2 separate regions of the Homo sapiens genome follow, and region 2 is linked to region 1. Evidence: fine-mapped expression QTL. A gene starts in region 1. The other region holds a variant in brackets. All regions are shown on one strand. Distances are between the middles of the regions.

The links.
Region 2: its variant is fine-mapped to the expression of ARF3 in whole blood (TOPMed, PIP 0.95).

The regions. Positions count from the first base shown.
Region 1 is chr12:48,955,837-48,958,743 of GRCh38, reverse strand. It overlaps ARF3 (ARF GTPase 3), which reads left to right and starts at 1,257. Exons shown (of 5, transcript NM_001659.3): 1 at 1,257-1,434. RefSeq lists enhancers at 1,930-2,009, 2,065-2,907.
Region 2 is chr12:48,899,442-48,902,348 of GRCh38, reverse strand. No RefSeq gene overlaps it. Among named protein-coding and RNA genes, the nearest start is that of DRC2, 3.2 kb to the left of the region's middle. RefSeq lists a silencer at 737-937. The variant G/A (reference allele first, on the strand shown) is at 1,806.

The sequences.
Region 1 (2,907 bases):
TTGGCCAGGATGGTCTCAAACTCCTGACCTTAAGTGATCTGCCCACTTCAGCCTGCCAAAGTGCTGGGATTACAAGTGTGAACACAGGGCCTGGCCCCAGCTTAGTTCTTCTTGGAAGCAAGGAAACAAACAAACAAAATCAACCAAGGCAATAAATTCATAAGAGCAACAATTTGGGCTCAAGCCTTAGGGAAGAGCCATGTGTTCATTCCCTTATACTGCTGTAAATGAGGAGAGAGGGCACTTAGAGAACCTTCTATTGGCCGGGCGCGGTGGCTCACGCCTGTAATCCCAGCTACTCAGGAGGCTGAGGCAGGAGAATCGCTTGAACCCGGGAGGCAGAGGTTGCAGTGAGCCAAGATGGTGCCATTGCACTCCAGCCTGGGCGACAGAGTGAGACTCTTGTCTCAAAAAAAAAAAAAAAAAAAGGAACCTTCTGTTCTTAGCATTACTAGTGCCCTTCTATCACAGCTATTTTTGTTTCAAGGCAGTTCTGCATGTCTAGACCAGGTGCAAAACGGAGTGTGAGGGAAGTAGGAGTGGGTAGGAAGCAAGAAATATGGGTGCAAAGTCCTTCACCTTTCCTTGGGATACTAAAATCCCTACTCATCTAGGCACACTTCCTCAAACCACACTTCTGAATATTAGGTTTCCACTCTCCGTCTTTCAAGTTCCAACTTAACTGGCTCAGAGTCCAGCTGTTTTCCTTTAGCCTCTTAAGTTCATCACTCTCCTTCCTCTTCCTTATGGGAAAGGATCTCTTGATTCAGACCCCACAGTAATCTAGTCTCAGGAATAGTGAGCAACAACAATGGTGCGGTGAGGGCTTTCAGGGGATGGCAGCTAGCCCAGATTAAGAAATAAAGATGAAGTCTGGCTGGGTAAGGCATGCCACAGCAACGACTGTTCACCCATATCCCGATGCTGGCTTTGCCCAAGGAGCCCCTGGGCCCCGCAGCCCAGCCCGTCTCCTACGCAGCCAACTTGCCGCCTCAGTCCTTAAATTCCAGGCACAACCCTGGAGCTTGGGATTGTCACCTCAGTCCTCACTGTCTCATCCCCATTCACGGCTCCCGCCTCCGCCGCCCACAGCCCCCACACCTGCCCCCGCCCTGACTCCAGCTCCAGCGCCCGGCCGCCGGTGCTGCAGCCGCTGCCATGGTGATGGGTCTCGCGAGAACTGCCGCTAGCTACCGCGCAGCTATCGCGCGATCGGGGAGGTGGGAAGTATCCCGGGCTGGGGGTGGGGGTACGCCGCACAGCTCCAGTCGCCGTCGCGGCTTCCGGTGCTAGGTGGAGGGAAGGAAGGAGGGAGCCGGGGAGTGGGCCAGGGCAGCAGCCGGGCTGAAGTCGGCTTGGGGAGCCAGAGGGAGCGGAGCGGAACCTGCGGGGCAGAGGCGGCGGCCGCAGCGGCGCAGCTGATAGCAGGAACAGGTGAGAGGCTGGGAAGGGAAGGCGGGTCCCGGTAGAGAAGAGGCTCGGTCAGGGTGAGGGCTGAGGAGATAGAGCGCCTCCCGGGCCCCGCCCGGCACTGCTTGGCGTGGGGCGGTGGGATTCTTCCCACCCGAGAGCTCAGAGAGGGTGCGTCGGGCCAGCTTCACGCCTGCCCCCGCATTTGAAGGACGCAGAGCTGGGGTGGGGGTGGGGGGCGCACACGGATTTGTCCTCCGCCTCGCTCAAGGGGGCGACCTGGGCTGCAGTTAGGTTGTCGCCTGCAGGAGGTGTGCTGTTGAGGGAGAGGAAAACCGTCCGAGGAGAGGTGATGAGGGGGCGGTGATGGCTGTTTGTATCTTTTCTGTTAAAGGGCTAGGGAATGCTGCTTTCTTCTACTCCCTCTCCCTCCCCCACCTTAGCAATAGGAGACGGGAGAGAAGCCTTGCTGTGGTTACACCCCCTCCCCCATCATAGGGCAGGGGTGCGTAGGGGGGTTGGGGGTTAGCCAACAGGGCAGGCTGCTGGGGCACCACATGGGCGCTATTGTGGTAGAGGTTGCGCTTTCGAGTCTAGGGAACCGCAGGTTGGGAAGAGGGCAGCAAGTGGGGAGAGGGTGGAGAGGAGGCAGGAGAAGGAGGAGGGGGATCTGATCTTCCTGGGAGAAGAGAGGTGGGGCCTTCCTCCCCAGGCGGAGCGGGGGCGGTCTCACAGGAGGAGGGAGCATCTTGTCACTGGCCCTCAGTTTGTGTCTTCCAATCCGCTTTCTTTCTTTAGGAAGTACCAGGATTCCCGGAACAGAAAATGGAGCCATTGCTTACGCGAATCGTTTGAGGGAAGGGGCGGGAGTTGGGGAGGTGGAGTTCCCTGTTAAAACGGGCCACTTGATTAGCAAAGTGGTAGCTGTTATTTTGGGGGAATTCCCGTCTTGATTGCATTAAGGCGGGTCTCCATCTTTCCAGGCCAGGAGGAATGTGGTGGTGGAGGTGGAGGATTGTGGTATGTGGTCAGGAGTGAGAAGAAATAGTAAGGCCGTCCCGGTGAGGGAGAAATGTAACCTAAAACCTGTCTCTGCTGTTGTTGGATTGGGTCACCCCTGGTCTATGGCATGAAAGTTTTATTGGGAGGAGATCTGCTGCAAGAGTCTGATTGCTTGGGTCAGTGCAACAGGACAGAATCTAGTCGCTGCATACCTCCTTCCCTGTCCTCAATCAGGTAGGTAGTAACAGTCTTTGCTGCTATTTTGTCTTGGGCTTGTTGTTGGGGTAGGTGTTTCCACTTGCCGTGACTTGGGACATGGGACAGTGTTATGGGACAGTGGATTATCATAGCCCATTGGACTTGAGTTTGAAAAACATGTCTGTAAAAGTTCATTCTAAGAAAGAAACTAATCCATTAAGGTTCAGCTTTTCACCGAATGAATGATTGACCTTGGATTCAGCCAGGAAAGGCTCCCATGTATCACATATTCACATG
Region 2 (2,907 bases), 56 kb after region 1:
AAACCCCTATGCTCAGTGAAATAAGCCAGACACAAGTGATTACATATTGTATGGTTCCATTTATATGAAATATCCGGAAAAGGCCAAGCTATAAAGACAGAAAGTAGATTACTTTCTTTTCTTCTCCCTTCCCTTCCCTTCCTTTCTTTCTCTCTTTCTCTCTCCCTCTCCCTCTCTCTCTCCTTTTTTGACTGAGTCTTTCTCTGTTGCCCAGGCTGGAGTGAGGTGGCACAGTCTCGGCTCACTGCAACCTGCACCTCCCAGGTTCAAGTGATTCTCCTGCCTCAGCTTCCCAAGTAGCTGGGATTACAGGCACCCGCTACCACACCCGGCTAATTTTTTGTATTTTTAGTAGAGATGGGGTTTCACCATGTTGGATCACCTAAGGTCGGGAGTTCGGGACCAGCCTGACCAACATGGAGAAACCCCATCGCTACTAAAAAGACAAAATTAGCTGGGCGTGGTGGCACATGCCTGTAATCCCAGCTACTCAGGAGGCTGAGGCAGGAGAATCGCTTGGACCCAGGAGGCGGAGGTTGCGGTGAGCTGAGATCGTGCCATTGCACTCCAGCCTGGGCAACAAGAGCGAAACTCCGTATTTAAAAAAAAAAAAAAAAAGCGAATTATGTGATATGCAACATGTGCCCCAATAAAGTTGTTTTAAATATGAAATATAATACATTACTCAGAACTCTCCAGAAAAACAGAACCAATAGGATGTGTGTATTTATTTATTATAAGCAATCGGTGTTATTATTGGAGGCTCAGAAGTCCCAAGATCTGCAATTAGCAACCTGGAGATTTAGGAGAACCGATGTGTAGTTCTAGACTAAAAGCCAGCCAGCTCAAGGTCCAAGAAGAGTCTGAGTTTCAGTCTGAGTCAGAAGGCCAGAAAAGACTGCCTCAGCTTAGGCAGTTAGTCAGGAGGAGCTGCTTTTACTCAGCCTTTTTGGTTTATTCATGTCTTCAATGATTGGATGAGGCTCACCCATGTTACAAGGGCAATCTGCTTTACTCAATCTACCACTAATTAATTCTCAATCCAATTCAAATATTAATCTCATCTGGAAACACCCTCACAGACAAAACCAGAATAATTTTTTTTTGTTTATTTTTCTTTAGACAGAAAACTCATTTTGTCACCCAGGCTGGAGTACAGTGATGCAATTGTAGCTCAGTGCAACCTCGAACTCCTGGACTTTAGGGATCCTCCCACCTCAGCCTTCTGAGTAGCTGGGACTACAGGTGTGCACCACCATACTCAGTGTTTTTTTTTTTTTTTAGTCATAGTCTTGCTGTTGCTGTTGTCAGCCTGGGCTGGAGTGCAATGGCATGATCTTGGCTCACTGCAACCTCCGCCTCGCAGGTTTCAGCAATTCTCCTGACTCAGCCTCCGGAGTAGCTGAGATTACAGGCATCCACCACCACGCCTAGCTAATTTTTGTATTTTTAGTAGAGACGGGGTTTCACCATGTTGGCCAGCTGGTCTCGAACTCCTGGAACTCCTAACCTCAGGTGATCCACCCACCTTGGCCTCCCAAAGTGCTGGGATTACAGGCGTGAGCCACCGTGCCCAGCCAACTATTTTTTTTTATTTTAATTTTTTTGTAGCGACTGGGTCTTGCTATGATGCCCTGGCCGGTCTTAAATTCCTGGCTTCAAGCGATCCTCCTACCTCAGCCAACCAAAGTGCTGGGATTACAGGCACAAGCTACTGTGCCTGACCTCCAGATTAATGTTTGACCAAATGTCTGGGCCCTCCGTGGCTCAGTGAGGTTGACACATAAAATTAACCATTACAGGCC[G/A]GGCGCAGTGACTAACGCCTATAATCCCAGCACTTTGGGAGGCCGAGGCGGGCGGATCACGAGGTGAAGAGATCGAGACCATCCTGGCAAACATGGTGAAACCCCTCATAAAAATATAAAAATGAGCTGGGCGTGGTGGCACACGCCTGTAGTCCCAGCTACTCTGGAGGCTAAGGCAGGAGAATTGCTGGAACCCGGGAGGCGGAGGTTGCAGTGAGCCAGAGATTGTGCCACTGCACTGCAGTTTGGCGACAGAGCAAGACTCTGTCTCAAAAAAAAAAAAAAATTAGCTGGGCATGGTGGCACACACCTGTAGTCCCAGCTACTCAGGAGGCTGGGGTGGGAGGAACACTTGAGCCTGCATTTCGAAGCTTTGCATTGATGCTGCACCCCAGCCTGGGTGACAGAGCAAGACCCGGTCTCAAAAAGAAAAATAAAACACTAATCCCTTCCTCAGAAGAGGAGGTAAAATCCTTGAGTGATGTTTACTCTTCTTCATATCCCATAACTCAGATATTATGATGCAAAATTAATAATACTTAAAACTATGACATAAAGTTAATACATCTTATGTTACATTATGAGGGAATAAAAGAGAAAAGAAAATGAAGATATTTGCTTGATATACACACACATAAACATATAAATAACAAAATGAGGAAATACTCATGGCAATCATAGTCCTAGGGTCCATAACTGGTCACGTGGTCATAGCTGGTATTAATAGCTACCGTTTTCTACTACTATCCTATTCCCTTTGCCTTCAGCAAGCACCTTAACAGGTGTTGACCTGTTTCTTTACCTGATGGACTGACTCAAAGCTTCATTTCTGAAGGGTCTGGGCCATTAGTAGTCCTGGATTGTTTTGTTCTAGTTTTCCATTGACCTTAATCACAGGTCACAGTAATACTGAGATGACCTAAGGAATCTTCCTTAGTATATCAAGGAATCTCCTTGATATGCTCATACTTACCTCCATTGTGAAGTAATATTCCAATTTTTCTTTTTCTTTTTTTTTTTTTTTTGACGGAGTCTCACTCTATCACCCAGGCTGAAGTGCAATGGTGCAATCTCAGCTCACTGCAACCTTGGTCTCCTGGGT